Regions from separate parts of the Homo sapiens genome. Here regions 1, 2 and 4 are each linked to region 3. The links come from fine-mapping of genetic effects on gene expression. A gene starts in region 3. Each other region holds a variant in brackets. All regions are shown on one strand. Distances are from middle to middle.

Region 1 (8,105 bases), 90 kb after region 3:
GGCAGGGCCAGGGCTGCCCTTCTTCACAATGCTCTAAAAGACACAGGGAGCCTGAGGTCGGAGCTCATAAAGCACCAGCTGTGGCACATTGAGTTGAATCAGCACATTCCTTCCCCCATTGCTCCTTTCCCCAGCTGATTGCCTGCACATGCCTCTGTTGTGATAGTGCTACTTACATGCTAATGTTTTCAGTTCCCTAGTCTACACTTTTGAGTCCTCATGTGTGTGTCTGCTCCAGATATGGAGACCACATCCCTCTTCTGTATAGATACGAAGACCACATTCCTCTTTGTGTATAGATACGGAGACCACATCCCTCTTGTGCCTGAGCAGAGCGGCCTGGAGCCCCTGCTCATCTGGGCTGACCCAGGGCTTTTCCACGTGAGGCTTTTCCACGTGAGGATGATGATGATAATAATGATGGACAAAGCTCCCAAGATGGCGCTGGGAGGGGTTGGATGAGGGGCAGAGACACACAGATTATGGAGAAAGGAGACCTGCGGACCTGTGTTTTCTGCCATGTCCCTGCACCTGCCCACTCAGGTGACTCTTCACAGGTCACCTAGTTTCTCTGGAGTGACGTTTTTCATGTAAAAAAGAGGGATTGTTACCAGATGTTTCATCTCTAAGGATTCTTCTACCTCCATAGTTTCCTGACTTAATATCTCTGCCAATTTCCTTGACGCTCCCTTCTAATTTTTCTCTTTTTAAAATTTGCAGCTCTTAACCATTGACGATAACTTCTGTGGCCTGGACATGAATGCTCCCCTGGGAGTGTCCGACATGGTGCGTGGAATTCCCGTCTTCACGGAGGACAGGGACCGCATGACGTCTGTCATCGCATATGTCTACAAGAACCACTCTCTGGCCTTTGTGGGCACCAAAAGTGGCAAGCTGAAGAAGGTAGGAATGAGGTGCAGTACTTTTGGTTACTGTGAAGACAGTCTGTCCCTCCTGGGCTGGATGTTATCTTACATCTTTTTGCTAACTTGGGCGTGTGGGCAGGTGATACAGATTTGAGCTAAGGAGATACGCTGCTGTTGAGGTCATGATGATCATCTTGTCCTTTCTCTGCCTCTGTGCTGAGGTTGTGGGGTGAGTGTGTGGATTCACCTCCTCCCTAGAGCTGGTGTGCACATGAGAGGTGTCAGACCAGCCTTGCAGTGTTGTTCTAAATGGTGTATGCTGTGTTCAATTTGGGCTTGTGCCCTTAAGGCAAAGGCTTTATTAGGTCTGAGCAATTGGGGAAGGTGGGCAGGGGGAAGGGACATGCCTGTTCCCCTTGCTCCAGCCCTTCTGGCTGCTGCATCATCTGGAATGCATTCAGGGAACAGATGGAGGAAAGTGCAGACCTATTAAAGTTGCAAATGGGGCCCAGAGCCAAGTTGTGGGCTGAGAAAACCACGGGTGCAATGGGAACATGAAAATTGCTCTGGTGAGGTCAGATGGTATGATCTGGGGACCTGACCTTTCCCCTGCATCTTCCGGAAGCTGGCAGGTTCTGGAGTCCTGGGCGATCTTGGCTCATCAGCTGTGTTGGGAGCAGTCATCCGCCCAGGGATGTTTTGTGTTCAGGCTTCTCATCTCATGAGTTGGAACTGGCCCTATAGTGCATGCCCTTCTTGATTGGGTTAAAAGTCCTTCTAAGGTGGTAGGCAGGAGGTCCTGTTTCCTGTTGGCCAATAATTGCATTTTAGTCCTTTCCCAGGAAATATTGATGATTCCATGTGGAGCTCTTGCTTGCTTTATTTTGGCTTCTTTTGGGGTTCTCTGGACATTGTGTGATTCAGATTGAGTAAAGATTGAGACTAAGCCTTAATCCCTCCATTTCCCTTTGCTGTATTTCTGGCTGCTAGCTCTGGATGGTCAAGAGGAAATGTTCTGGGCATATTTAGAGGACTATGCCTATTTTACCATCCAACAATGTAACAGCCCAGCAATCATTTCTGTTGGCATCTCTGCGGACAGGTGGTGTGTCTGGAATGGGAGCATGTGGAGGACAAGAGGCGGGCACCCCAGAGTGTGTTTGTGACTTGGGAACTTGTGTGTGGAGTAATTCTATGGGTAATGACTGGGAAAGAAAACAATGAGCACTGGGGAAACACCATGGTACTCTGCAAGAATGGTGTCCATGATGTACCACACAGCAGGTGCTGCCCAGGAGGAAGTAACTGCCTAATTTGAGTGGACCGCCTTCAGTGTCACAACTAAAAAACAGCAAAATCATTGTGTACACATTTTTAAGAATTGTATTTCATAATTCCCTGCAAAGAATTGTATTTCATACCTCCGTTCTGTGAAGAAAATGGTAAGCGCAATGGAATCTTTCCTTGCTGCCTCAGACTCCTCGTGATTTTTGTTCACATATTGAACTGAGTTTTGTGGATGCCCAGGGAAGACGCTGTGAGACATGGGCATGTTATCCCCACACAGCTCCTGTGTCTGATTTTTGCTGCCTTCCCGGGTCTTCCTCTCATGCACTTGGCCACTCATCACTTCCAGTTGCTGCCAGGAATCCTGGTTGACTTCAGCACCTTTCCTCCTCCCTCATTCTGCAGCTTCCAGCTTTGGTGGGCTAGGAAACCAGATAGCCAAACTCTGAAATTGTGTCTGACACGCGTCAGTCCACACTGAGGAGAGAAGTACATGAGCTTTTGGGCAGGTGAATCAGATGGCTCGATTCTTCAGTAGGATTTGGCAAATTTGGTCTGCTGGAAAAGTGAATTCTAAATACCGGGGGCATTACTGTGTACAATTCATGCACTGAGACCTGCTTCACCTGCTGCAATGGGTGAATGAGCACCATTAAGAGTAAATAAGTCAGCAAGCAGTATGGGGGATGCTTTAACTCTTTTCTCCGGTGAGCTCAATCTCAGTGCAATGTAGAAGTAACTTCCTGCCTTGCCCTAAAAGAGTCTTACCCGCTGAATTTCCTACCAGCTGCCAGAGGACCATTTACTAGCTGGCAGGATGGAGTAGACCCTGGATGAGGATTTGTGTGTGTGTGTGATTGTCTGAGCTGGTTGGGCAGTGAATGTTATCAATGAAATGAACATTGAGAGTTCAGTGCACATAACAAAACAGTTATTTTCTCTTGGAAAAAGGAAGGTGTTTCCTGACCATGGCTGCATTGTAAACCCAAGATAGTCAACTTGCATTTTTGTGCTGTTTGTCCAAGGGTGGGTTGAGGCATTTGGTGACTGGTACTCTCTTGCCTGTGGAAGCCTGTCCAAATCTGTTCCCCGACAGGGAGGTCAAGTGCAGCACCATGAGTTTGGGATCAGGACACCCCCAGGAGCCTGGGCCAGCAAGGCGCTCAGAGACAACCCTCCTGAGGCAGGTAAGGACAGAGTCCAGCAGTCGGTCAGGCAGGCAGTGACAGGTGACACAGGCAATACCCCACCAAGAGGCTGGGGCTTCATAAACCGCGGCCGGCATTCCCATCTTTTACTTTGGTAGGTTGATATAAGAACAGTTCTGTTTCAGCCACCTGGGATATTCTATCTAATTTCCAGAGCAGTGGTGGGGCTGGTGAGGCATAAACATTTGAAAGGTAAGAGCGCAAGGGTCAGTTGGGGGGAATGAGCCTTCGGTCCTCCCGGGGAAAGCCAGGCCACTGGGGCGGCCAAACTTTCTGCTCTGCAGGCTTGGAGTGGCAGCCTTTTAATGGTTTTGCTCAAGCCCGGCTCCCGTGCCTGCAGACTCAGCACAGCTGGCCCAGGGGAACAGTCTGAGTTGGGAAAGGAAGGCTGGGCTGCCGAGTCTGTTGTTTGAAATAATAAAAAGCAAAAGTGGCCCATTTATTTATTTTTTCTTGAACAATAGAATTCCCCACCCCCACTCACTCACTAAGCACCACTCCCCTTTCCTTGTAATAATTCTGACTTGCTTTTCCCAGAGGTTATCAGGACCACAGTCACCTTTTGGGCAGAGGCCCAGCCGTGACAAGTTGTGGAGCTGCAGGAGGATTTTGCTGGAAGTTTTGCAAGTGACTGAGGCCAGGGCGTGAGAATAATGGAAATCATACTGTAGCCATAATTACAGAGTTGGTTTCTCTGAGCCCTGTAATAATCTCCTGTGTGTATCAAGGACCTTTCAGAGTTCTTTACGGTATGACAAGAGACTGGAAATGGGGGTAGGTGGGCAGGAGAGAGCTTGGGGGGATGCTAAGAGTAAGGGTGTTTGCTGTGGGTTTCAGGGGTCCAGGAGCTAGACCGAGCTATCCGTGGGCTGCTCTCAAAATTACTTTTTATTTTGCTTGAAAGGCATGAGTCCCAATCATTTGCAACCTTGTCTTTGACGACCGTAATTTCACTCCTTTAGTGCACACGTCACATGAAGCGGGGGGAAAGGAGGTGAGGAAAGTGCCAATTTAGATGTCTTTGATGTTTTCTGATGTGTGTGTGTTGC[A/G]GATGGTATTGGCAGCCTCTTCCTGTGGTGAGCTTTAAGGGTATGTGTGTTAAGAAATATGACCTATAAATACTACAGTCATAAGCAGGTGTCTAGGAACTTAGCAATAACCTACAGACTGTTAACATTTCCACTATAGGTAAAAATCATAAGGCAAATGCCATCTTGACTGGCTTTAGGGCCAAGCAAACCTAAATCTTTGGCTTGAGTTGGGACAATCAGCTCAGTGTTGTCTCAGAAGCACGAGATTTCTTTGCTTGAATATTTCTGCTGGAATCTTTTCCCTCTCTTGCTTTCTCTGCCTCTTGCTTTCCTTTCACTAAGCGATCATTTTTATGGCTGCTGTTCAGTGGTGAATTACTGCCTGACATTAGTGGGAGAGACTAATGTTCATTGTGAACCAAAACATCATAAACTTCCACTTGAGGTGTGATTGCTCCTCTCGCTGGTGATTGCGTCTTCCCTGGATGTTTTTGCTAGGTTAAACTGTTCACACCTAAGGGGGTGGAGCGCTGTATGGATGTTGGTTAAGCGGAACTCTGGCTGGCCCTGCTATTAGCCTGTTGCGGGACATGCATCCATGTGTCTGTGCACAGACTAATCCATACCAGCCTCTCTGAATAGGTACTGGGTGCACATTCCCATGAAGAGGCAATAGGAGTATATAGTACAAAAACCATTCTTATTGGGAATTGTCATGTAGATTAATTTAATCTTCCTAATTTTTTTTTCTCAAGCCTGTTTTAAAATTAATTTGCTTTTGTTCCCTAGTCCTTCGGCACAGGTCCACAAGGGGGAATCACCCAGGAGTGGATTGGAGTGGAGGGAGACCCACCTGGGGCGAACATTGCTTCTCAGGAACAGATGCTGTGTGTGTATCTTCAGTGCTCAAGTCACAAAGCAATATCAGATCAGAGAGTCCAGCCTCTGCTTTGTTGCTTCCTAAATGTACCTGGGAATTCTTCCTAAAATTACTCTGGAAATTTGAATCCACTTTAACTAAAAATAAATATTCATAGCACAGAAAGCCCTGCAGATGGATGGAAGTGTCAGGAAATCAAATGGAGATACAATGTTGGAACACCAAATAGACTAGGAACATGTGGTTAGGGCAGAGGGCATATGTATTTGATACAGGGTTCGGTCAGGTAGTTCTGTTGTGCTATATGTTTCTCCAGCCCAAGCTGCCATGGGTTCATGTGTGATTGATCACAAGCACAAAGGGAAAGAAATGCAGAAGCATCAGGGCTGACCGATTTCCATGACAGGAAAAGACCCTCTATTTGCTATATTGTGTCTGCATTTTCCATCCCTGGTTTTGCAAATATTAAACCTGCATAGACCTTACCCTGTGGGTTGTGTGAAGGGGAGGCTGAGGTTGAAGGGCTCCAGGCAGAAGATCCCACAGGTGTGCCAGCGTGCCACCCTCCCTCCTCTGATTTCACGTTCAACCACAGACAGACGGCATTCTGTCGTTAGTCTTTCCAGCCTGGGAATTCTAAGACTGGCCCTTCAGACTGATCTTGCCTCAGACCAATGTATCCACTTCTCATGGGCCTTCCTCCCACCTTGTTTCAATCTCTTCTGCTATGTTTTAAGCTTTCTTCCCAAGTTTTACTCAGTTGACTAAAAGAGCAACTAAGCTGGTTGATATCCTCTTGGACATATTTTATATTCTTGAACACTATTAAGCCCTCACTCAATCACCCTTTTGATGTAAGTGTGGCCACACTGGCCCTCTTTTCTTATCTTTTTCCATTTCTCACTATTCTGCCCTTGGGCCCACCCACCTTCCCTGCACATCCCTGGGGGATCTCAAGTGGTCCCTCCTTGCTGACCTGAATAAACCCGGGGAGGTGTTCTCATCGTGAAATTTCTACTGCAGCCAATAGCTAGGCATTGTTGCATTCTCCTCCTGACTTCCTCCTGAAACACACATTGAAATCCCAGCAAAGAGTTTCTCAGGAACACTTGTCATTCTGTTTTCCAAGTGATCATTGCTAGTGCACATGATTTAAAGAGATAGTCTTAAATGAGCTTTGCCAATTCAAGATTTATTGATACGTGTGCCACTTTTTTGAATCATATGTGTGTATATATACACACATTGGTATAGAAAGATCCTGATCATAAATTAAAATGCAAACACATTAAAATTGAAGAAAGTGCTGCACAAACACCCCAAATCATAGAGCGCATTCAGTCAGCTGATACACAAATGTCAGACGCACTAGAGGAATTTATCCAGTGACACATGCAATTGAAGTAAAATATTGTGCTTTACAAAAACATATCATTAAAATGAAAACTAGCAGCATATTAGGAGTCTGGCCATGTAACCAAGACAACAAAGATGGGAAAGGATGAAAGACATGATGTACAGAGGAAGAGGGAGGAGGCAGAGGCAAGAAGAGGGAATGAGCCCCCAACCATAAGTGGTCCTTTTACTGCTGGGCTCACACCTGCTAGACTCTGGATAGGAGAATAGAATCTTGATGTCAATACCAGTGAAGACTCCTAGCGAGGGTAGAGCCAGGGGAGGTCTTTGTTACCGGCAATTGCTATGATTTCCTCAGCCACTCTGATGGGGAAGGCAGTGGCAGTTGGACCAATTCACAGCCCATGAGTTGATGTTCTGATTTGGGGTCTGCTGAAAGTCCATACTTGTTCTTAGGGAACTTCCTGGGAATGTGTCCACTGGGCTTGCTTATTGATGATGTCATGGTGCTGCTTTTCGCAGCAGTTCTGGCTTCTCATAGAAGCATCCATGGTGACTTTTTAAAAGAGGTCTCTCGGCCGGGCGCGGTGGCTCACCCCTGTAATCCCAGCACTTTGGGAGGCTGAGGCACACAGATCATGAGGTCAGGAGTTCAAGACCAGCATGACCAACGTGGTAAAACCCTGCCTTTACTAAAAATACAAAAATTAGCCGGGCATGATGGTGCACACCTGTAATCCCAGCTACTCAGGACGCTGAGGCAGGAGAATCTCTTGAACCCAGGAGGCGGAGGTTGCAGTGAGCTGAGATCGCACCATTGCACTCCAGCCTGGGCAATAGAGTGAGACTCCATCTCAAAAAAAAAAAAAAAGTTTCTCGAAGCTCCCACACTCACTCCATACCTTCTCTCCTGGCCCAGGAGACACAGGTGTATTAGTTATCGATTGCCGTGAACTACTCCAGAACTTAGAGGCTTTGAACAACACTTATTATCATACATACAGTTTCTGTGGTTCTGGAATCTGGGCATGGCTCAGCTGGGTCCTCCGGCTTAGGGTCATGGTATTGGCTGGGGCTGCAGTCATCCCACTGCTAAAGACCAGAATGGGGAAGAGTCTACCTCCAATGTCACTCCCGGGTTTGTTGGCAAGCCTCAGGTCCTCACTTGAGAGATCCCTACATTGCCATGTGGGCCCCTCCATGAGGCCACGTGCACAACAAGGAGTGCAGCAGCAGGCTTCTCTAGAACGATGTCTGAGAGATGGGGGCGAGAAAGAGGCTGAGCAAGGTGCAAGCCATTGTCTTTTTGAAACCTGGTTTCAGAAGTGACACCCCATCCCCTTTGCTGTATTATGTCTTAGAAGCCAGCTAGTGGGTCCAGCTCACACTCCAGGAAGGGACTCTGTAGGTCATGAATACCCAGAGGTGGGGATCACTGGGGGCTATGTTGGAGGCTGCCTTCTACATGAGGGCTTTG
Region 2 (8,105 bases), 24 kb after region 3:
CTCAATTCTACCCTACCTACCAATATTTGTTAGTAACCAGGCACATAAATAGCCATACAGCCTGTTTTTGAAGCTCAGTGTGGATCCTGCTGTCTGCCTCAACTAGTGTGCCGGGGAAGGGTATCAAGGTTTGCTGATATAGCGGGTCACCTCAACCCTGCAGGTGGACAGCCAGAGGGCACGAGGGGCATGCAGCAGCAGAAGCTCCCTCTCTGGCCCCAGGGTGTGGTAAAAATATTATCACTTTCTGCAAGTGTCAGGAAGTGAGAAAGTTTGGGAGGCACTGACTTAGTAACTCTTACAAGTTTATTTCAAGGAAGATTTATTTGAGGCAGATGTGGCAATGTGGTTGCAGGTTTCAGCTCACCTTCTAGTGGGATTAGAGGACAGCATCCTTTGAGAGATGAAATAGACCCTAGTAGGACCCCTAGGCCAAGAATGGAGCCACAGAGGGCTCTAGGCTTGCCAGATTCTTGTGCCCAAAGGGCAGAGATGCCTGGATGGCATTTCTAACCAATTATGCATATTCGACACTGCTTAATTTCCTGCTGATAAATTGTTTCCAACATCTCTTATGTTTTTTAACAAACAGTGTAGACTCTGATGCAAGGCTTTCAAAGGCTAAGTCACCAGCCCTGGTTAGTTACAATACTTCAGATGTCGACTAACCATCCTTGGGTAAGGATTGGAACTAACTTACATTATACCACTCTGTTTAAGCTGATGCATTTTAAAGTAATTTACAGACATCATCAAGCCTTGGCTACTCAGCTGTGTGGCGTCAGCATGTTACCTGTCTTCTCTGAGGTTCAGTGTCCTTATCATTAAAAGAGTAAAATAAGGGACTGCTCTAACAATTAAGTGACATAATACGTGGGAAATAGCTTGCACACTGCTTGACACATATTAAATGCTCAATAAGTGGAGAGGTAATATTATTGAAAATTGTTGCCTGTTCTTCAGATTCCTAAAGCTTGTCAGTTCTGCTTCTTGCCACCCTGTGTTGGATTAAAACACTTCAGTTTTCTTGGTTTATAAATAGTCACATCTGTTTCTAACACTGGGCTTCAACAAGTCTACTGCCTTGAGGTTCTATAAGCAAATGGGAAGGGAAGAAGAGCAGGTGGCTGGTCCCATTGCATTAATTCTGGCTCTCTGTCAGAGTATGACCTCTTAAAAAAAGATTTAAAAATATTTGTAGGGATTCCTTTATTTTTGGAAGACTCAGAATTTTCTCAGAGTCTAGAATTAACAGCCACGTTTATATATTCAATCTGTGCTCAGATCAGCCATCCACATGTAAACATACGTTATTTTTATAGGACCTGGAGTGATATCTTAGATAATGTGGTTTTTTTGCCAGGCCATGGTGATGGTTACTGTTTTTTTTTTGTTTTTTTTTTTCCTTCAGGTTTACCACCCAAGACTCTGAATTTGGTGTAGGGAGAGCAGATAGGAGACTCTTGGCTCAAAGCAGTGGCTAACCATTAGTGAGTAATTATTGCCTGGAGCCTACCTGATAATTATGCCAAGCATTGCAGGATGGGGCATCTGCTAATGTTTGCCTGCAACGAAGTCAGAAAGCTGAAGTGGTCCATCAGAGACCAGAGAGGTGTGTTCAGTGTACATGGTGTTTGCATACTTGGATGTCCTCACTTGCCTCCAATAGGTGATATTTATGAACACTGCCCATCTCAGCTGTCTTCAGCCCCAGGCCCTGGTTTCCTGGAAAGATAGCCTTAAACTGGTGAGTAAGGGCCTCTGGGATTCTCCTGTGTAAAGCCAGCCAGCCAGTGAGAACCCTCTGCCCTGAGGCACCCTGGTTCAGAGCGTGCTCGATTCTTCCAGGCACCTTAGCTTTGAAATCAGTGAAATCTCTGCATGATGACAAACGATTAAGCTGGAAACATTGCATTATTCCCAGCAACACTCGGGCTGAGAGAGGAAAGAACCACTGGTTGACTGTGGAGAAAGGTGATTTGCCCCTGTGGAGAGGGAACAAAAGCTTGGAGACTCTGGAAACGGAGTGTGTCAGTGTATTTTGAAGGTGATGGGACATCTGTGAGCAGAGAGTCCGGCTCTGGTCTTGTGGAGGTGGTCTTTCCACCACATAGCACACCATGGGGAGATTTGCCATTGCTTCTCTGTCCCCTAAAGGAAAAGGGGCACCTCATTGTCACACTGTCCCCCCAGGGTCCTTGTCACTGCCATCCTCTACTCTTCAGCCCTTCTACAGTGACCACAGGCCCTGTGTTCACTAGAACAGCCTGTGTTTCAGATATTCTGTGCCATTGCTTGAGTGTGTGTCCTGATATTTTTGGTTTGAAAATAGTCATGTATCTATATCTATATCTATCTCCAAATGGGTATCCTTGGGCAAAATTGAGAAATAGTTGAATTTTGCCCCAAGTACTTGGGTATCTCCTCTCTATTTCTCTCTTTCTTTCTTTAGACAGGGCTTTTGGTGATATACACTGTAGTGTGTATACCTGTGAGCTGGGAGCAAATAAGGGCTGAAATTCTGCTCATGTTTTATTGGCCAAGGCTTGGTGTATCTCTTTGCTCAGGAAGAGTTGCCCTTTTCTTCCCCCAAGATGCCTTCTGTTTACCAAGTTCTGGTCAACCAGAGAGGACAGCACTCCCTAATTCTCAGCAAATAGCCATGTAGATCAGTGGGGACCCTGCTGTTTGCACCCTCTCCACTCTCTTCTGTTTATCCTTGGGCCACAGAAAAACAGAGGTGATGGAGGAGGTACACTAAGGTGTAGGTTGTTGAAAGAGAAAGCATGATGCTTGACCCAAAGAAACCATGTTCCAGTGGCAGACTTTTAGCACGTCAATGGAGGGAGTAAGATATGGACTGGTGCAGGGGTGCTTTGCTAGGACCTCTCAAACCAGATGGGAAGGTCCTATGTGTGGCCATTCTCTAGGTGCCTGTGCTTCAGATTGAGCTGGGGGACAGCTGTCTCTGGCCCCTCTTTTGCACTTAATTTTCATGTACCCTGTCAGGAAGCTCTCCCCCTGGGCTGATGACCATCACCCCTTGGCTTTTCTGATGGGTCTGGGGAACCTGGAGATCCTTCTGACTGTTATGAACCTCCTGGGGGCAAAATACCATTCGCAGTAATGTGGAAAATAGCCTAAGGGCTGCTGAGAGCTGCCTCCTGCCATGTCCCCACACTTCCTTTATGTGTGTC[C/A]TCCCTGTCATTCCAGGAAATGCTGACCTCAGGGTGAGCAGGTTGCAGGCCATGCCTGGGGCTGGCAGAAACATATCTCAGGACGCATCTGCAAGGCTTCTAGATCATCCATGTGTGGATGCCGTGCCAGAGCTAGGCATTCAGAGCAGCAGGTTTTCTGCCTGTGAGGTCCACCCAGAGATACTGGCTTTTCCAGCAACCAGAATTAGGAAGAACTTCAGTTTCATGGCATGGGAGCCCATAGCACCCCAGAATCCTGAGCCAAGCATTCTAACTGCTAACAAGCCAATCCCCTGCCTCCTGGCAGAATCACCCCTAAGAGGGCTTGTAATGGGCAGTACTGGCCCCAAGGCAAATTTTTTTTTTTGAGTTTCTTTTATCCTAACACAACTTCTACTTCAACTAGCATCACTGAGCTGGCTTTGGGGTGAGGGTCTCAGGCACCTAATTGATTTTATACAGAAAGGCATTTCTCCTGATATTAATCTTTAGGGAAATGAAAGTCCACTTTTCTTCTGTCCAGTGTTTTGTGGCCCAAAGGGGGTGTGTCTCCAGATGAAGAAAATGGAGTATCAGTGCTAATTTGAGATCCAGTGAGCAGCGGCTCGGGTAATCAGATACCACTTCAGCTGGAAACCTCACACTTGCAGAAGGACTTTTTATTCTCACCTTCCAGAGCCTTCTAGCTATGGGGTGTGCTACAGGAAATTGGGAGCTGATGAAGAAGCGGGCTGCCCCATTCCCACCCCCAGGGCTGCCTGTAGAGAATCCAGGCCCTTCATTTCCCAGTGCCTAGCATCTTGGGGCAAAGGTACTTCCAGCTACTGCTTGTGAACCAGAATTTTTGAAGGGGGGTAAGAGTAACAAAGAGCCCCAAACAAATAACTCCCCCTGTGACTTCTTTTTGACCAAGTGTTTGCTGAGAACTAAATCAACTCTCGTAAGTGTGTTCTTTCTTAGTGTTTTAAAACAAGGTCTAGGAGTCAGGGCTTTAGCACTGAGGTTCTGGGTAACTCTGCCAGCTGTGATCCTGGACACCATCTCTGAATGGCTTTTCCTGCCCCAATTAATGTCTTCCTTGCTCATCACATTAACTCTCACCGGGAGCTTTCCTGTCAAAGGAAGGAGGCGGAGCAAGCACTTAGCTTTCCATCTACTGTCAACTTCGGCTGCATCTTGGCTGCATGTGCAGCATTGATTTTACATGTCCCTCCTCAGCAAACCTGCTAATAAGATTCTTTTCCCTCCTCTCCTTCCCCCCACCCCCTTCAACCTGGCCCTGACTCCTGGTCAGACCTTGATTACATGTCTCATTGATTCCATTCAGCTATTTATTAATACACTAATTAGTATGTTCATTTAAAGGAGAGTGACACCGCTTTTTAAAAATAGATGTACAGAGGTGTAGGTTAATGGAAATCTCTGTTTATTTAACATCGATGTCTGGTGTGAAGAGGATTAGTTTTGGATGTTAAAAGGACACAGAGGTTTTTCCGGGGCTTAAATCACTTTAGCTGACAGTCACTAACACCCTTTGAAAGGTGACACCTAGAATCATATTTCATTTTCCTTCAGTGATCATAGACACTGCAATATTGGGGTGGGGAAACTAGAGGGCAATTGAGAGAGTACAGTACAGGGCTGGTGGTATTACGTCTTTTGCAGAGAGCTCTGATTGTGTATGGGGACTGGCTGGCCCTTGCAGCCTCCAGCGAGGTATACTCACTACTCTGGCTGTAGGACACGACCGGCATTTTGTAATGAAAGGTTTGTGAATGGAAAAGCATTGCTTTTCTATTATAGGTTTGTTCTTTTTGTTCTTGAGTTGCTCACTATTAATCATGGCTGGTTAATTCTGTAACAAACCACCACAGTTCAATATGGGTTAGTATGTGGGGGGATTTTGCTCCATACAGTCATTCAGGAGCCCAGGTTCCTTCCATGTTGTGGCTCCACCATCCTGTTAAGGGCTTCTCAATTTCCCACTGGCTCTTCTGTATCTGGTCAAGAGAGAAGGGAAGAGAAAATGTGTGAAGAAAGCTGCTGAGTGCTCTGGGGACCTGGGTGTGCACCTAAGCTCGCTGTCTCCAAGTTCGGCATGCCAGGACTGCACTTTGAGTGTTGGGGAATTGTCAGGAGGCTGCTGCTGTGGTCCAAGGGAGAAATGATGAGGACTGGGCCTGAGGTACTAAGTGGAAGGGAAGGCAGAGGCCCAGAAGTGGGTCTTGGTGAGAATTAGATGAGGCAGCTGAGGGGCACGGAGGACCGAGTGGGTGCTTGTGCTCTAGCAAAGGGAGAGAATGCAGGAGAAGGAAGAGGTGGGGCTTGTTTTTGAGGAGCTGGGTTTGAAGTGTCTATGGGACAGCATGGAGATATACTGGGTGTGTGAGTGGCCAGGAGGTCAGGGAGAGACCAGGATTAAGGTCTGCACTGCAATAAGTCCCAAATTGGATGAGGGACTATAGGTGCAGATGTGGTCATTGCAGCCCAGTGGGGTAGGAGGACTATTAGGGTCATCAGCAGCAGAGGAGCTGGACTCTTCCTTTCCTCCTCCCGCTGAGTCTGTCAGACAGAAGCCTTGAGGGAGGGGAGGACAGGGGAGGTTAATTGTGTATAGCAGACCTTGGTGCCTTGCAAATACAAAATAAAGTCATATTTTGGTTAAAACTCAAATTATGCTGATTTTTTAAATTAGCTGAGCTGTGCTCAGATCCTCTTTAAGTGTCTACTAATTGCCTCCTGCAGCTGAAGAAATGCTGACCCCTCCCTCTCATTGCTATTCTCCCTGTTAATCCTAGCCTGGAAGAGGTCCTTCCCCAGATTCCTTCCAGCACAAAGAGATCAGGCTGTATGTCTGAATACAACTTTTTTTGATGGATCAAGGGTAATAAAGGAAACACAGAGAGTAACTTAACACTTCTTCAAAAGGTAGCCACTGTAGGCATCTCCAGGCTTAGACCTGTCCTCACTTGTGGGTGCCTCATGCCCCACTCCTGGGCATCCTGCTCCCTAGAGGAAGGGCAGGCTCACCACCATGCTGTGGGGGTCAGGGGTACTCTGAGTTGCAATGAAGACCCACATTCCAGCCTTCATTGTCTTCCTAGGGAACGTTCACTTCCTTCAGGGTAAACCTTACCCTTGGGCAGCAGGTGGGGTATAGCCCTAGCCTTATAGAACCCACAGAACAGCCACAGCAGAACAAGGTTCCAACCCCAAAGTCTGGGTTGGTGCTCCAAACTGCAACTGGATCCTGGGCTCAGCCTCCACCTTCTTGTAAAGTGAGGATCTCACCCACCTGTGCTGTCTTCTTCTGCCTAATTTTCAAACTATAACTCTACCTCTCTCTACCTAATGTTCAAACTGTGGTTTGAATTATAACTTGTCTGCCCATCCACAAAAATAAGCTGAGCATTCTAAAGTCATTTTAAGAAAAAAATCCTAGCCCCCATGCTGCTCCCCAAACAAACAAACAAACAAACAACTCACCCCAAGGGAATATTAAAGATGTAGCAGTAACTTAACCCAAATAGCAATTGTCATGACTGCTGAGGAATCCTCCCTGCATTTGATGTACTTTGCCATTTTCCAGAACACTAAGGAGGGTAATGACTCAGGGAAATGACCCTCCCAGAAGCACGGAAATCTGCCCCCAGGAAGATTTTAGGGTCCACTCACTTTTAAGGTTTTTCCTGCATTGATGGTTCCAGCTTTCAAAAATCTTGGGAGGGCCCAAATGTGTCAGCATCACCAGGGTTGGGACCCAGGATTTTTTTTAAGTTCCCTAGGTGATTCTCATGAGTAGCCAAGTTTGGAATCACTTCCAATGTCTGAACTAAGTGGTTCAGTTCCTACCAAGACACCTCAAGGGTGTGAGTAGTTAATAAATATTTTGTACGAGGGGAAATTAGGTTCCCTGGGATTCCTGTTTTCTTAGGTGGGATGATGATAGGGGCCTTACCAGAAAAGCATCCTGATCCAGACCCCAACAGAGTTTTCTTGGACCTCACACAAGAAAAGAATTCAGGGCAAGTCCATAAAGTAAAGCAAACGCAAGTTTATTAAGAAAGTAAAGGAGTAAAAAAATGGCTACTCCATAGGCAGAGCAGCAGGATGAGCTGCTTGATGGAGTATACTTACAGTTGTTTCTGGATTATATGCTAAACGAGGGGTGGATTATTCATGAGATTTCCAGAAAAGGGGCAGAGATTTCCCAGAACTGAGGGTTCCTCCATTTTTTAGACCATATAGGGAAACTTGTGGATGTTGCCATGGCATTTGTAAACTGTCATGGTGCTGGCCTGAGTGTCTTTTACCATGATACTGTATTATAATTAGCATATAATGAGCAGTGGGGACGACCCGAGGTCACTTTCATCACCGTCTTGGTTTTGGTGAGTTTTGGCCAGCTTCTTCACCACATCCTGTTTTATCAGCAAGGTCTTTATGACCTGTATCTTGTGCCAACCCATATCTCATCCTGTGACTAAGAATGCCTAACCTTCTGGGAATGTAGCCCAGTAGGACTCAGCCTCATTTTACCCATCCCCTATTCAAGATGGAGTCACTCTGGTTCAAACACTTCTGACAGGGTATATTTTACTCTGCAAACTAGGAAATAACAGATTAAGGTTTAAAAGCTACGTTGGGTATTTATTGGAATGTTTAGGAGAATCCTTGGTCTTGGTCTTGGGTGAGAACATGCCTAACCTTGGGTCAGAGCACATTTCTCTTGGCCCAGGGCTAGGAACAGAGAACTCAGACTGCCTGGCAGCGTCTCTCACTGTTATCAGTGTTGTCTACCTCCATGTCCCACTCCTGGGCTCTCTCCACAAGCAAAACCCCCAAATACATACAAAATGGTGGGACATTTTTTAAAAAGCCAATAAATAAAGACCTTACTTGCACTTG
Region 3 (8,105 bases):
CTTTTATTCAGCTGTGGGAGATGAACCAATACTTTTTCTGTCTAAACCCAGCAATAAACCCCAACCCAAGTCCCACAGACATAGCTTCTTTAGAAAACAGGACTCTCTGAAGCAATGTGCCATTTAGCTTCTCCCTCTTGTGGCCATGGGTCCAGACAATGACATAACCAGTTTCACGACCAGGCAAGAGGTAGAGGGAGTGACTCACAGAGCCATTGTCAGTAGGGGACACCTAGATGGTCCTACTTGTGTCTCCCTTAGCCCTCACCAAGGGAGAGGGGGTAGAGGAGGTGTGAGAGCCAGAAGATCTTGTACCTAATGCAGAAACACATTTTGAACTGTGGTAAGATGCTGCTTTTGCCTGTGTATTTATTCTTGGGGTGGGGACAAGATAGCAGAAGGCCTACCCTCATTGTATCATTCTATTTGAAAAAAATAAAAAGATACATTCATCTGGAAAGCGACTCTAATTCCCTACATGTGTTTTGTACCTACCTTAGAGTTTCAAAGCACATTAATAAGATGGTATGTCCTTTGAATGTCATTGCAACTCTAAGGGGCGAATGTGTCAGGTGAGAGATGAGGTATCATTGAGAGGACGTGACCCGCTCCAAATTGTAAAGCTGGCCAATGACAGAGCCAGGAGTAGGACATGTGTTTTCTAACTTCCAATGTAGAGGCCCTACTCATCCCACCCCATTCCATTCTCCTAACTTAAGGGAGTCAATCCAATGGGTCATCACTGAAAAAAAAAAATCCTCTACTGCAGCTAATTTGACCCTTTCTACTCCTCCTTCCGATAATATGATAACTGCCCCCTTTGGTATGCCTTTTACCGTGTTATTCAGTGGAAGGCAACCGGGGAAAGGCAATTTGAGATATGGCCCCTGGCCCCATTAACAACGGGAGAGCTCGCTGGGCCCCTCACCTGCCCGTGGCTGGTCCAGCTTTTTGCTGTGTGTCTTCCCTGTCATTTGGCTCTGTTATTACTCTTCAGGCACCACATGGCATTCATTTCTTTGAATGAAAATAAATGACACCACACACTAGGCAGGAGATAAAGAATAATAAACACATTTTATTTGCCACCTCTGGAAAAAAAAAAAAAAAAAGGTCTTTGACTTCCCGTCCATCCATCAGGAAATGGGCCTGGAACTCAAGCCATATTCACACACACACGCACACACACACACACACGCACACACACACAAATACAACCGATATGAGGAGGAAAAAGACAATCAGATTGTATTAAAAATACATGCTAGAATGACTGAGAATTGAGACAGAGTTGTTTTCTCACCTTCCCCCCTTCCTTTCAGCATTTTATGACATACCCTGAAAGCTGAGTGGCCAACAGAAGTTTGAAAGGAGTCTCCCCCGCGCCTTTAATTGAACGATATTCCTTAAGTAACCCATTAGGGACTTTCATGGGGCTATCCGGGCTGTCACTTCTGGAAATGGGCCGTGATGGACCCATGCAGCAATTTTAAAAGGGACACCTAGAAGCAGTGTCAGGATCAGGTGATGCAAACCTTACATGGACCTTGGGGTGACAGGGCCTCCTTGGATTTTGTATCCTCAGTGCCCGGCTGGCCTTGTGCTAATCCCAGTCTTGCAGAGAGAGGCATTTGGCCCTGGGCTTCCTCCACCCTGGAAGGATGTTCAAGAGGCAGTAGCATTGAGTGATTTTGTTATGTGTGTCTCTGGACTTCTGAAACTAACCTGATATTGTGTGCTTTATCTAGAGTCTGGGATTCAGGGTTTCTGGGAAGAGTGGAGTCAGATCAATGTATTCATGTAAGCTTAATAAGATAACTCCTTGCTGCTTTCTGGGCCATGCAAGACTCAGCAGAGAACCAGAGACTAAAAGGGCTCCACGCTGTCTCCTGGAATATCCTTTAACCAAAGAATCAAACATGTGGTTTCCTCCTCATTCTGGCTTGGTTCATCTTCTCATTGGTGAGAGCAAAGTTTCAGCAGGGTCCTCTCTGGGTGGGCCAAGCCTGACCTATATGTGCCGCTCACCTTGGGGCTTGTTTAAGCTGTCATCTCACAGCTCCTTTCAAAGGCTCCCCAATTCACACAACTTCGATTTCTGTGAGAATATAACCCCTATAGGGAGGTATAGGCATTTAAGCCATTATCAGTCATGTCCACCTAATAAGGAGGCTCTGAGATGTTTCGATGGGAGGGACAGTAATGGGCGGGAGTTTCTGGGTGTGAGGACAGTGAAAACTAAAGAAGGGACAGGAGAGAGGAGGCCAAGAGCCATGGGCTCCTTTAGAGGGTCGTCCTTGCTGGTTGCCTATCCCAGGGAATGCTTACTGGACTCTGCTGAAGGTGCCACTTCCCTCAGACTATGGTGGGAGCGGGTATGAGGATGAGGGTGGCATGCACAGAGTTGAGTTAACAGGTGTGGGAATCCCTTCGGTTTCTCTTGGTGGGTGGGCCCATTCCTAGGGGGATCTAGGCAGAGGTTTGGGAGGTAGTGCCACCCACTCCCCATCTTCACTGCCTAAACCAGAGCTACATGGTGATTTCTTTCTTTGGGCTTCAGAAACCACCCTGATGTTGGCATGGTCTGTTCTGGATGTAGTCTAGGATCTAGGGTTTCAGAGAAGAGAGGAGCCAGGAGAGCCGCTCAGTATAAACATGAATGGAAAAGTCAGGTTACCAAGCCAGCTCTGGGGCACTGGCCACTCATGTTCTCTCGTGCGGGCCTTGTGCCCTCAGTGTCCTCGGCCTCCTTGGGTGCCATGTGGGGGTGACTTGGTGGGGTGTTGGGAGGGGTTCTGACTAGCAATGGGTGTATGCCTCAGAGTCAGTGTGCGCTTGTGTCAGCTCTGAGCACCTGAGGGTCCCTCCGACGGCCAGCGCCCAGAGCTGCAAATTCCGAGGCGGCTGAGCGCCTCCCTCTGAGCGCGCGCCGTGCGCTCCGGTCACCCATGTATGCCCCTCTCTCCGCCCCACATCGCCACCGCCAGGGTAGCTCCGTGCGGGCCGAGGGGACCCAGGGGGGTGTCGGCAAACGTTGGTGCGGAGGAGAGCCGGCAAGCCGGGCGGCGGCGGGTGGGAGCATGTAGGGAGGCGCCCCCTGCCCCCTCTGCCGGCCGCTCTCCCTCGCTCTAGATGTCAGCCGCGAGCTCCGAGCCAGCGAGAGCGAGCCAGAGAGGGAGCGGCGGCGGGCGGCGGGCGGCAGGGAGGAGAGGAGGCGAGGCGAGGGAGGGAGGAAGGGAAGCAGGGAGGGCGGGAGGGAGGAGAGGAGGACCCAGAGAGCGCCAGGCAGCTGGAGTTTTTGCAGCGCTTGGCCGGGCTTCAATGCACAGCAGCAGCGAGCCGCGGCGGCAGCAGGCAGCCCGGGAGCTCCGGCGGCGGCCGAGCCAGCGGCGGCCCCGCTCCCTGCCCCCTGCAAACTTTGCGAGCAGCCCGCCCGGGGGGCCGGGGGCGCGCCCGGGAGGCCCGGCTCGGCCCGCGGCCGAGCTCTCCGCCGCCGCAGCGCCAGCCGCCGCAGCCACCACCGCCGCAGCCCCGCGCCTCCCCGGGGAGCAGCCGGCGGCTCCCGCGGCCCCCCAGCCCCGGCCCCAGGGCACTGCCCGGCGAGTGTCTCGGCAAGGGTGGGGGCTGCCGCGGCGCGGCCGGCCGCGGGCTGCCGGGGGGCGGCCGCCGCTACCCAGAGAGGCGCGCAGAGGCGCCGAGAGCGCTCCCCGGCGGGTCCCCCGCGCACTCGCCGCGCCCGGGCAGCGGCCCGACCGGGCGAGCATGGGCGGCGCGGAGTGACGCCGCTGTGCCCGCTTGGCATCAAGGACATTCAGCCCGCGGGGGTGGGGACGAAGGGGGGCAGCCCGGCGTCGCCACCGCAGCCCCCGAGAGCCGCCGCCGCTGCTCGGGCTCCGGGGCTGGGTGGAGGAAAGGGGTGTTCGGAATCGATCCCCATTTTCCGACCTTTTTGTTGGACATTACGCCCACCTTGGACGCCGCAAGAGAAGCTGTCAAGCCCCGCAGGCTCTGATTCGGCGCCCTCCGCGTTCCTCGGCTGCTCCCGGCTTCCCTGTGCCTCGGTGGAGTATTTGCGTTCGGGGCTGGGGCTGGAGGAGGCAGCCACACGCGCGCACACGCACACGTTCAGAGGAGGGCGAGAGGCAGCGGCATAGGCTCCATCTGCAGTGTCAATGCGGCGCTCCCGCTGAAGGAGGGAAACGCGGCGCGTCCAGGTAAGGAGCCGGCCCGCCGGGGAGTGGGGCCGGGCGGGCGGCGAGGGCAGCAAGGTCGGACAGACCTGGGCCGACCCGGGAGTCCTCAGTGTCCCGGAGCCAGCCCGCGGCACACGCACACGCACACACGCAGGCACACACACAGATCCACACCGGCACACACGGCGCTCGCGCACCTGCCCACGTCCCACCTGGACGCCCGCGGAGGTGCAGCGGCCGGAGCAGGGATTTCCCGGGTGTGTTCTCCTCTCACGCTCCTGGACTCAGACTTCTCTTTCCCGGGACTTTCGGGGTGGGATTCTGTGTATTCCCGGCTCTGCCTCCCACCCGGGGAGGTTGAGGGAGCAATTTTTCAGCTCCCAGCCCCTTTCGTCCCTAGCTGGGCTTTAAAATGGGAGAAGTCCTGAGAGGTTTCCGGAGACCTACCCAGTGTCATCGCGGCCCCGTGGCCTTTGGACACCCTGGGATTTCAACGGGAGACAGACCCACAGATATTCGGACGCATATTTGGAGAGAGTGGTGGCCCAGCGCCCGGGGAGGAGGCCAGATAGGCGGTTGGGGCTGCAGTTCTGTAGGGCGGCGCATATGAAACAGACACTGCGTTTCCCCAGTAAGAGGCAGCACAAACGCCTTTCTGAAGCGTGGCACTGCTTCCCCGGGAATGCGCCGAGATTTCAGGCAGAAAGCGGCTTAAAGCATCGCCGCGTATGTTGCTTGTCTAGGGAAGGTACGGGGGTCAGATCCTCCTTAAAAGGTAAGACCTTATTCACAGCCTCAGTGCCTGCTTAGCAGCAAGCAGACAGGACTTGGAGACACAGGACTTGGGTCCCCTCTCACCTCCCTACCCTCCCTGGGCACATGGGGCTGCCTTCCCCGGTGCCTCCGGCTGGCGAACACCTGTCACATGCCTTTCGTGGTGTGTGTCTGAGAAAGAGAACTAGAAGGGGGAAGCACGAGGGATATAGTCCTCCAAAAGAGGAGGCTCCCCTCCCTCACGACCGTGGCGGCACTGCCCACCGGAGAAGGCAAGGCATTCGTGGGTCTGCCAGCGTCCCCCAGAGCCCAAGCCTGCTCCGATTGTAGAATCACTCCCCAGACGCCCGTGCTTTAAGGTCCTATTTCCCGAAAGCATTTTCATTCTTGTTCTCTCTGGCTGGAATTTCACAGGCTGCTCATTTTAACTTTTTCTGGAGGAGGTAGGAAGTGGCTGGGGTTCTAAGAGGCTTTTCCATAGTTCCCTTCTTGGGGTCTAAGAGCAACTAATTTAGGGTCTCAGTTGTCATAGGGAGAAGAACATGAGATCCAAATCAAATTCGGAATTGAATATATATGTACAAGCTCCTGTGTTTCTGGTGCTGTCACTTTGAGGTAGCTTTCTAGGCAACATGATCATATCATTTTCCCACAAAACTGAATAAGCTTGTACCCTCTGTCCAAGATCATGTGTTCAGAGTATCCCACAGACCCACCAGTGGAAAAAATATGTTAGGAGCCTTACAGAACATGATGGAAGAGGAGCAAACATTCTTTTGAACAAGGAGGCCTCAGTGCTAGGCTCAGAATTTGGGTTGTTTTTGTAAATCCTGAAGATAGGGGCTGAATGAAAGGGCTTTTTCAGCACCCTGACTCCGCTATTTCCAAACTTTTTTCAGCTCCTGCAAAGGTCTCTGGCTAGGCTGGGGAGAAGCGCAGACACCCCGGGAGGGAGATTGTATTCCCGCTGTGTGCTGTGTGAGCTGCCCTTTGATTGATTGAAAAGCATAGATGGAATAAAGCAAATCTCTCACAATGGAGAGACCCCAGTAGGGGGAAGAAACCTTATTTGCTTTTTAAGAATGGTGGGCGTGTGCACACACACACCCAATATATATACACACATGCGTTCTCAGAGTCTGGCTAAATGTGGTCAGCTCCCCGCCCCCGCCATGTGTGACAATGGGGTCCACCTCTGTCTTCCGGGCTGTGGAAGAAATGGAACATTTCTCCCCACATGCCCCTTGAGGGCGTGGACAGGCAGATCCCACCTACGCGTACAGCAGCACATGGTTTGCAAAAGAAATAATGAGCTCCAGCAACAGTGGGTGCCTCCCAGGTAAACAGTCCCTCATGGGACCTGGAAGAGGCAAAGGGATAGGGTACAGGATCTTCCTGAAATGTCTGTGTCTTCCCTGTAGACCTCCACTCCTTTCTCTGCTTTCCTCCCTACCCTCTTTCCTTTCTCATGTATTCGCAGCCTCAGGATCCATCATTTTAATGCAAAGCTAGTATCATTATGCTGGTTATAAGCTAAACATCTGGGTTCAGAAAATCTCTGCACTTTCTGCACTTAGCATTAGGTACCAATTTGGTTTCTAGGACAAGGCAGGCATTAATTAACATCTCTGTAAAGCGGAGTATACATTACGTTTTCCTGGCTCTCTTGCCCAGCCCTGGAGCATGCCACGCTGTCATTCACCCTCTCTGCCACTCTTCTGTGCCCTTCCTTTTAAGTTCTCTGAGGTCTTTCTCACTGGGAAGGGAGTCACACTAGAAAAACCCCAGCCATGAATGCTTCTTTTCAGCAGACCCTCGCTGCCTGGTAGACGGTGCTTAAGGCAGCTCTCCTGTGAGCACTAGGCATGGGTCACCTACAAGCTGCTCCTTCTTACCCAATCACGCCTCCCCGGGCTCTCATCTGTCCTCCCAGGACTTCCTCCTGGATGCCCACTGGGACACTGCAGACATTTCTGGAGGACTCCAAGGCAGTCAACTTGTTTCCTTTCTCCTTCTCTGTGCCTTCCTGTCGCCTGCTGCTGCTACTCCCTGCAGACAGGGAAATCTGCACGGCAGAGTCTGCCTACATACACTTGGCCTCGGGATCCTTTTCATCACAATGAGGGCTGCTGGGAATGAAGTGGGGGCTTTCTAGGATGGCAGCAGTCCCGAAGTGGGAGAGAGCTAAAGGGGCTGGGTCATTAACCACTCTTGATTCATAGTTATCATCAGGCTTTGATGCAGAGAAATCGCTGTGGATCTCTCTCCTCCTAGCCAGCTAGGGGGCATTTCTTAGCTGCTTCTCCCCATCCTCACCTAGAGAAGGCATACGCAGACAATGCACATCAGAGACCTGTTGGAGCGGCTCTGTGGTGGGTTACAAGGGGGCGGCAGCAATACAGAAAACACGACCATGATCTTGGCTCTCATTAGACTATGCAACAGATGTGCCAGCGTCTCCTCTCTTCTTATTTGTGTCCAGTGCTACCCAATGTGAAACTGGCTCAGACCCTGGGCTATTGAGTAGGTTCATTTCCCTCCCTTGACACCTCCCTTCCTTTTCCTCCAACCCCCACTTCTCTGCCCCCACCACTTGCTAATCTACCTCTTGGCTTTGTGCGCACATCCGCCAGCCCATTCGCCCTCAAATTTGCGGCACTCCAAGAAATCAATATAACATGAATTTAACGACAGCTGGATGATTAAGTGTTATTTATATTTAAAAGCGGCATTTTAAAAAGACGTCTCACTAATAAATGGCTGTTTGGGAGATGCACATGATTAGGGTAATTGGCCTATAGGCTCTATCGAGCTATGCTTGGTCCACACAGGGCCCTGTGGACAGGACACTGTCTCTTTAAAAGCTGCAAGCTCCACTGCTCCCTCCCCAGACTCCCACCTGATCCCCTCTAGCTGCACAGACTTTTTCTTTCTTCTTTCATGTTGTCCTCACTGCCCAGGCTGTACCATTCAAGTTGCGGTAGGAAGGTGGAGCCCACAGGGAGACTGAAGGGGGCTCTGCTGCTGAGTGGTAAGAGATGGATTTTAAAACGAAAGGCAGGCAGGGGTCCTGATTCCCCTGGAACAAGAGCCCAGGCCTTGTTCCTGAAGGAGGAGGCTGCTTCCCTGCATGGCATG
Region 4 (8,105 bases), 180 kb after region 3:
GCAATGCAGCTGGCCAAGAAGAGATGCTTGAGGTTAGCTGTGGGGGAAGAGAGATCCAGTTATTACGCATTTGCATGGTGGCGGTGCGTCAGCTGAGTGTTTTGTGTTTTGTTAATGAGCTCTTCAACACTAGCTCTCTGGATTGGGGGTCAATGGGTGGGCGTGCTCAGCACAAGAAATGAAACAACTGGGTCAAGGACACGCAGTTTCTGTCCATGCTGGAGGTGGCGTTCCCAGCCAGACCTGTCTCATGCAAAGTGATGGTGCTGTGGTAATAATGTAGGAGGTGTTTCTCCTGATCCTCGGATGCCTCCTTGTTAAACCTGATTGATCCGATGGACTGAGCGGCTCGGGAGCAGCCTGTCCTTTGCTCTGCATACCCTGTGATGGCAGTGGCCAGTGCTACAAGGTGAGAAAGCAGGCTTTGAGAGGGGAGCTGTGTTTTTGGCAGGGGGTATTTCCTGCAATAAGATGATTAGCCAGCTGCCCCTCCCATAGTGGCAGCCTGCAGCAGCACACTGCCCCTCTCCCCTGTGTGTATGTTGGACTAATTAATAACAGGAAAAGGCAAAGAGATGTTCTCCAAGGCATTTAGAACTTGGACTTGAGTATCTTAAAGCTCTTTCTCCACCTTTACAATGGAGCCCCTGTGCCTCGCTAGGGTGGCTTCCTCATGTTAGGTGAGTGCCCCAAGTTACTTTTTATAGCTTTCTGTCTCCCCGCCTACCGTCAGGGTGTCTGGCACCTGTCACTTCTCACTGTTGTCACTGATCCTGTCTGATGCAGCTCTCCTGCTGCCACTTAATTTGTTCTTTTTAATTTGCTACGGGCTTGGAAACAGATACTCAAGCTTATTAGACTTGTGTATAAAATAAGAATAAAGAGGTGTTGCATGATTACTCTAGGGACCTGCTGAGTCAAGTGCATTCGCTTTGGTATGTAGGCTTGAGATTTCCATTTTACCCTTTCCCGGGTCATTTCTGGTATTTTCTAGCACCTGGCTGGGCTCTCGACTGGGGAATCTAAGGCCAGCTGAAGTGCAGTCAGGCAAAGTGACATGAACCATGACAAGGACTGCTTACTTTTATACCCATCGATACTATATTCTGAAGCCTCTCCAGCCTCCCCCTCTTTTGCTTATCTGAGAGATGCCAAGTGCCTTCTGGGGAATTGGCTTTTTGCTGAAAATTGCTCTTGGCAATTTGCAGGGACTTAGAGCTGGTTCAGGTGTTTGAAAGATCCACTCGTCTAAGCACAGGGATAGAGCCAGTTTATTATGAAAAGTTTTATCCATCTTCACTCCTCAGCTGTCCCCAAGTTCAGTTCTTCCCCTCCTCCCCAGTATGGCCACACAATCTCTGAGCCCTTCTTTATTGGCTTAGAGGGCCCTTTCCCGTCCTCTGAATTCTCCACTTATGCCCCGTCCTGATTAAGTTCCACTTCACCATGAAGTCTTCCCTCATCCTACCGGACTTCCTCTAACCTTATGCGTCTGTTCAGCAGTTCACTGATTTGCTCCACAAGTATTCATGAAGCTTTTGGTACTGTATCACATGCTGATTGTTTCTGGATTTCATGTGTGTGTCTCACCTTCCCAACCTTCATGAGCAAAGGTTCTCAGCCTGGGCTTCACATTAGAACCACCTAGGGAGCTTTTAAAACTCTGATGCTCAGGCTGCAACCTAGTCCCATTAAATCAGACACTGGAAGCGCATTTTTTTAACTTTGCCTTTTGAGATAATCGTGAATTTGCATGCAATTGCAATAAATTGTACAGAGGGGTTCCTGTACCCTTCACTCAGTTCTCCCCTCCACGTGGCATCATTTTGCATAACTATAGTACAATATCACAAATGGAAAATTGACTGGTACAACCCACCAAGCTTATCCATTCAGATTTCACCAGTTTTTTGCATTGGCGAGTGTGTATTTAGTCTTGTGCAATTTTATCACATGTGTAGATATGTGCCAGCCAAAGGTCTCTCCCTTTTTCACAGGCCCTAGAGACCTGATCTGAGATCGTGCATGTCAGGTCGCTGGAGTCCTCTTCTGGCCTGCTTGCACAGATAGCTATTTGCAGGGCTCGGGAATGAAATTGAAAATAGACCAAACAATGTGACAGTTTTCTCCTGCTATTTTTTCTTCCACGAACAGAATGTTCAGCATTATTTTTTTCTCTTTGTGCAATATTGCAAGTGAGAAATAATCTGATTGGAATGCTGGCTTATGCTGTTTATGAGCCTGCAGTCTCCCACAAGCTGTGCGCAGGGAGCTTTCCCGAGGAGGACATCTAGGGACTTGCAAGATGAAAGGTTTGGGGAGTAGCTGTGGCCACACCCAAAACGCTGGTGAGGCTAGGAAGTAAATGCGTGGTATGCATACGGATGGTACCCCTGGAGGCTTCTCTTTCCTGGGAGTGTTCTCATGTGTTTTGCCTGAAAACTATCAAGGAGTGGCCTGGCCCATTCACACAGGGCCTGGGAAAGAAGGGTGAGCGTGTCTGAGGCTGGGGTACATTATGTCACAGATTTTGTCTGCTGAATAGCTGGGAGGAGAGACGAGCACCTTGAACTACCTGCTTGATTTTGTCAAACATATGGAATTTGAGGCCTAAGATGGACTGGCTGTAGAGAACACAAGAGTCTGGGTGACAGGTAGGAGACAGGACAAAAGGATACTCTTCTGCATCCTCCTAGGGACTCCTTCCTAATCTCAACAGAGAGGACAGGAAAATATAATTGTCAGTGTCACATGGGAACTTAGAGAAAGTGGAGTCCTTTACTTCCTGGGAGACCTTAATCTGAGGATGTTAATTCCTTTTTTTAAGAAACACGTATGGATCATTCACTCTGTGCCTGGTATGAAGCTTGGTTCTGGGGCACAAAGGTAACAAATACACAGACAGACTAGGTAGGCATTTGTCTGTTTAGATGTGGATGAATTTTATTTTATTTTTTCTCCGGGGGTAGGAGGTGGACTGGCGTGGGGTAAGGGAGGAAGTTGATTATTTTGATTTATTCCAACTTACAAATGCCCAGAAGATGTAGGTATGGGACCATCTGATCACAAAGGTCACATTCCTCCCCTTTCATGCCCATGAAAGTATTCTAGATCTCGATTGGATTGTTAGTTACACAGGTGAAGGCATTTGTCAAAAACTCATCAAAGTGTGCACTGAAGATCTGCACATTTCATTGCGTGTACATCTTACCTTAAAAAAATCACACTCCAAACAGAAATGGAAAAGAAGCAGTGAAGCCCCAGTTAAGAGCAGTCTACTTTCATCAGGAATAAAACCTGATTTTGAAATTTCATCCTAACAACATTTTCAGATGCCAGAACCCACTACATTGAATATACCTGTGGCCCTGCAGCTCTGCCCTCCAAAGCACAGATGTGTGACCTTCAGCAAACTCACTGTAGCCCTGCCCAGGTGTGCCTGCTTCTGCTTCTGGAACACTCTTCCCAGACTGCACTAGGACCAGTGTGGTCCCGCCTCCCCCATGAAGCCTCTCTTGATTTCTCCAGTCAGCCGAAGTGATCTTTCCTTTTTTTGTTTCACCTGCATTGACTGCCTTAATATAACGTGACTCTTATTATTCAGAGTCTTTCATTCACATTTACTAAATAAGCCAGCACATATAAAGAGCGTGGAACAGTGCTTGGCACAAAATAAATGCTGAAGAAGTGATCATGACTATTTTTGTTGTTGCTATGTTTTATGCTTATGATCAGTCCCTCTAAGGCCTGTGTCTTTGACTGACATACAAGCTGATATGTCTTGCAGGGACTGGGTTGTGTCCCTTTGGTGACCAGTGTGATGCTGAGCCCTTGCGCCCATTTGAATCCATTTGAATCTGCAGAACTGTGTGTAAATACTCCAGGCAAACTTGAAGCCCGTGGGTGTAATAGAGACGTGACTGAGGGAAATTCTAGCAGGGACCTCTGTACTTTAATGCAGCACCAATCAGATGGCATGGGATGGGAGGGGATGCCCAGGATTCTAAAACCCTTATCCAGCCCTGTGGTTGAGAGGCCTTGAGAAAAACCTGGTGCCAGGGCCAGCTGAGGAGTGGAGGTGGCAGCCACAAAGGCCATCTTTGTGGACAGCCTTTAGAATCTCCTGTGGGTGTCCTGAGGTGGGGTAATAAGATGCCACTTGATGACAACAGCCCTCCCTTTCAAAGTGACACTTGGCAAAGGGGCATCATGACAATGACACCTGCTCATCAGCCCTGTCCACCTCGAGCTGGCGAGGGCTGGGCCACTGTGCTCATTAGGTCGGCATCTGTCCCCACCAGCCTGCCGGCAGCTGATGCTCATTAATCCTGGAGCCCTGAGCCTATTGGGCCGAAAGAGGCTGAGCTTTTAGAGCCATTTATGGCAATGGCCTCAGTGAGTGCTGCTAGATT[G/T]ATTTATAATTGGGCTGAGGGGCCTCCCTGCGTCCCTGGAGCCCAGGCTCTTAAACTGGGCCAGCCCAGGAGGGTGGTTTTGGCTCACTGGCTTCATGAAAAGGAGAAACGCAGAGCTGGGGTTCCCGTCAGACCGGGCATGGACGGCATCTCCACAGAGCTGACTCCCGCACACCCAGGGCCCTCCTGGCTTGGCTGCCTTGGATGTGTGGTTCCTTGTTGCGACACGAATAGAACCTGTGATAGTGAGGACATGGGCTATTCAGGAGAGCGGGACACTCAGCAGGGTCTTCCTGGCAGGCTTTGGGATCAGTCCTCTGAAGTCACAACAGTTTCACAGGAGAATATCAATAATGAAAATGGCAGGTTATATTTATTTTCTGCTTAGCATTGATCCAAAGGTTTCAAATGGATCATCTCATTCCATGAAGCAAGAACTATTATCAGGCGTCTATGGCAGATAAGGAAACTGAGACACCAAGGGTTCCATAACTTGCTCAGGGACACACCATGCTAGAGGCACAGCGTGGCTTTGGACTAGGTGGCTTAGCTTGGGGCTTTGGTGCCTTTGCTTTCTACTGCTCCAGGCATGGGACTTGGCATTCCCAGCCTAAGCAGTGGGTCTGATGGGTTGTCAGAGATCCTGGGAGCCTCCATAGTGAGATGGCAAAGCCTGGGGTGATGGAAGAGAAGGTGACTGGCAGTCAGGAGACTGGAATTCCAATTTCCTTCCGGTTGCTAAGCAGCTGTGTGACTTTAGGTATATCACCTTTCTCCCCTGTGCCCTTCGTCAAATAGGCATACTGTCCTTAGCTATTGCTTTTAAATAAGGATATCAACCTGAAATACATATTAAAACACTGAGAAAATAATTAATAATGATGACCATGATGGCCTTTGGCCCAGTAGGAAGGCCCCCAGCATAGGTCAAGAGCTTGAAGGAGAGCATCATATTTCAGGTGGTAGAGACAGTGGGCATTTGACAGTCTAGGAGCTGCTTCATCCTTTGCCAGAATGAATCCCTGGTTCTCTCTGTTCTTGTCTTTCTGTATCCTGTGGAATTTCCTGGATTTGGGGGAAGCTGATATCTGCTCACCTCTTTGGGTCTTTTCTTTCTCCCAGCATGGGGCTCTCATGAGTGTGTGGTAAATAAAGCACCTAATCCTACCTCATTCCCCCAATTCTTCCTACTACCTGCTCTCCACTTGCCCTTGTGTCTGTTTCTCTCCTTCTGCTGGTTCACTATCATCAAAGACGCATCTCAGTATCCAAACTGTGAACCCAACTGTCTTCATTGCTGCAGGTTTCAGATTAGCTCGAGTGACGGTGGTGCTTTTTACAGCAACAGAAGCTGCTGATGCATAATTCAACAAACAATCCAGAATTGCATCAGAATCCAAATTACTCACATCAGAAGGATCTTGATGTTAAACACTGTCTCTTAAAAACCAACTTCATTCATGCTGGTTCCTGCGCTTTTATCTTCTAGTATTTGTAAAATTTTGGGGAAGGCTGAGATGCGGAGAAGGCTTTTAGCCTAAAATGGATGGCTGGGTATCCCTGCAGAGAATGCGGGTGGTGTGATGTCCCCAGCCCCCATCCCTGTGCCAGCTGTCAGAGTGGCAGGTGTCTGGGTCTGGATCTTGGGGCAGGATTTCCCTAGGCCCCAGGCAGGTGTGGGGCAGGGCCGCCCCTGGAGGCTCTATTTCCCACACCAAGGCAGGGTCTTTCCCTAAAGAAACGAGCATCCTGCTTCACTCTGGAGAGGGTGCACTGCACCGTGGTTAAGAGTGCACAGGCTTTGGGAGAAGCCTCCTGAGGTTCAAAGTCTGGCCCTGCTGGCCAGGCGCGGTGGCTCACACCTGTAATCCCAGCACACTGGGAGACTGAGGCAGGTGGATCACTTGAGGCCAAGAGTTTGAAACCAGCCTCATCTCATGGTGAAGCCCCGTCCTCTACCAAAAATACAAAAAATTAGTCGGCCATGGTTGCACACACCTGTAATCCCAGCTACTCAGGAGGCTGAGGCATGAGAATTGCTTGAACCTGGGAGGCGGAGGTTGTAGCAAACTGAGATTGTGCCACTGCACTCCATACTTGGTGATAGGGGTTGACTGTCTCAAAAACAAACAAAAAAAATAAAAAACCCAAAACCCAAGTCCAGCCCTGCCACTAATCAGTTGTTCGACCTTGGACATGCTACTTAACCTCTCTGTGGCTTAGCTTCCTTATCTATCAAGTGTGGATAAAAATAGTGCTTATCTTACAGTGCTGTTGTGAAAATTAGAGTTAATTTATATGAGTGCTACATATGTGTTGGCTATTCTTCATCTCTTTCCGAAACTTCCATAGATACCTAGGGAACCTGCAGCTCTCCCCATTCCCTTTATGAACTCCCCAATTTTCAAAGCATGGCATACTCTTCAGTATCTGTACTGAGTCTCCAGAGTCCTTTCTGCCCATCCATTGTGGGGATATCCCAGGGGGCTGGCTGAAGGCTTTCTCTTGATGTGATCACTTTGACCACAGCTCCTCATCTCTAGGGTACATTTGCCTTACCCCTACTTTTGTTCAGCTGTGTGTCCCAGGAAGTCCCCAGGCAACATCACTGTCTATCTCCAGTGAGGCTTAAAGGACCAGAAATTTATATCTCACCAAACTATGGCAGCTCTTGGGATACCAGTTGCCCATATTTTGTGAGAAAACAAAATACCCCCAAACAGTGAAAGCTTTCTGTGTCTTGAACATGTGTACAGGCATAGGTATAATGGGAGAAACTCTAATTTGGAATCAGGCTGCTAACTGGCTTCATCATTTGTTTCCCGGCCATGGGGATCCTGGTCATTCCTTCTAGAGCAAGTGGTCATGGATTGCACTTGCATCTGGACTTCTTGCTTTTTCTGGGCGGCAAAGAAAATCAAGTAATACTCTCCCCTCTCTCCAAGAGGCTAATTGAGGCTCCCAGCTTCCAGGCTGTTTGCCTATCAGAGGCTGCCTGCATGGGTGCCAGGGTTTAACTGGCTGCTGCTTCCCCCTGGTTCTGCCCAGCAGCATGTCAGGGGCCACATGGCCAGACATGAGATGCACAGGTGGGACGCACGTGCCAGCCTGCCTGCAATACTTCAAATAGGACTTTGTGCCCCCACTCAGTGCTGCATCATCAAATTTATCTGGCCGACACCCTCTCTCAGCAGGACTCTCTCTGGGGTCCCTCCCAAGGTTTCCATTGATTTCTTCCTCTCACAGGGCCTCAGACTCTAAAGAAAGTGCTTATTCATCTTGTCCCCACTCCTCATCTTCCTTTCTGCCTGAATGGTCACCAGCCAGCCCCTTGTCCTCAGCCATGCCAACTAGCCCCCATAAAACCCATGGTCCTGTCATCCTGCAACAGCCTCAAACCAGTGATTTCTAGGAGCCTGGAGGGCAGGCTGTGACTTCCACTCCAGTCCAGACCTACACCTGAATGCCTAATTGAGTGTTTCCCCCATTATTTCCAGGTGTGAAAAGTGGGTTATTTGGCCAATGGCTCCCCTAGCTGTTTATCAGCAGCTGTGGTGGCTACCCATTTGCTGTAAGGCTGCAGAGAGATGCAGCTTCACTTTCGCTGGAGTGTGCAGCCACACCTGCCCCGGAAAGGCAGGACTACATCTGCATGTGATGAGGCCCAGGATCCCTGAAGGCTGAGAATCCCCA

Which allele goes with the higher level. Alleles are on the strand shown, and positions count from the first base shown. SD is a standard deviation of normalised expression in the study named. Not every link is listed here.
In carriers of allele T in region 4, the expression in esophagus muscle of the gene that starts at base 4,166 in region 3 tends to be higher than with G alone (moderate effect, 0.62 SD a copy in GTEx).

What was found.
Region 1: its variant is fine-mapped to the expression of PLXNA4 in blood mononuclear cells (TOPMed, PIP 0.99). The same link has a PIP of 0.9 or more in whole blood.
Region 2: its variant is fine-mapped to the expression of PLXNA4 in whole blood (INTERVAL, PIP above 0.99).
Region 4: its variant is fine-mapped to the expression of PLXNA4 in esophagus muscle (GTEx, PIP above 0.99). The same link has a PIP of 0.9 or more in sigmoid colon and stomach.

The regions. Positions count from the first base shown.
Region 1 is chr7:132,482,090-132,490,194 of GRCh38, reverse strand. PLXNA4 (plexin A4) reads left to right here. Exons shown (of 32, transcript NM_020911.2): 3 at 721-903. Among named protein-coding and RNA genes, the nearest start is that of PLXNA4, 90 kb to the left of the region's middle. The variant A/G (reference allele first, on the strand shown) is at 4,411.
Region 2 is chr7:132,548,345-132,556,449 of GRCh38, reverse strand. All of the region lies in intron 1 of PLXNA4 (plexin A4), which reads left to right. Among named protein-coding and RNA genes, the nearest start is that of PLXNA4, 24 kb to the left of the region's middle. The variant C/A (reference allele first, on the strand shown) is at 3,198.
Region 3 is chr7:132,572,531-132,580,635 of GRCh38, reverse strand. It overlaps PLXNA4 (plexin A4), which reads left to right and starts at 4,166. Exons shown (of 32, transcript NM_020911.2): 1 at 4,166-4,214. RefSeq lists enhancers at 3,727-4,704, 4,705-5,682.
Region 4 is chr7:132,394,939-132,403,043 of GRCh38, reverse strand. All of the region lies in intron 3 of PLXNA4 (plexin A4), which reads left to right. Among named protein-coding and RNA genes, the nearest start is that of PLXNA4-AS1, 47 kb to the right of the region's middle. The variant G/T (reference allele first, on the strand shown) is at 4,413.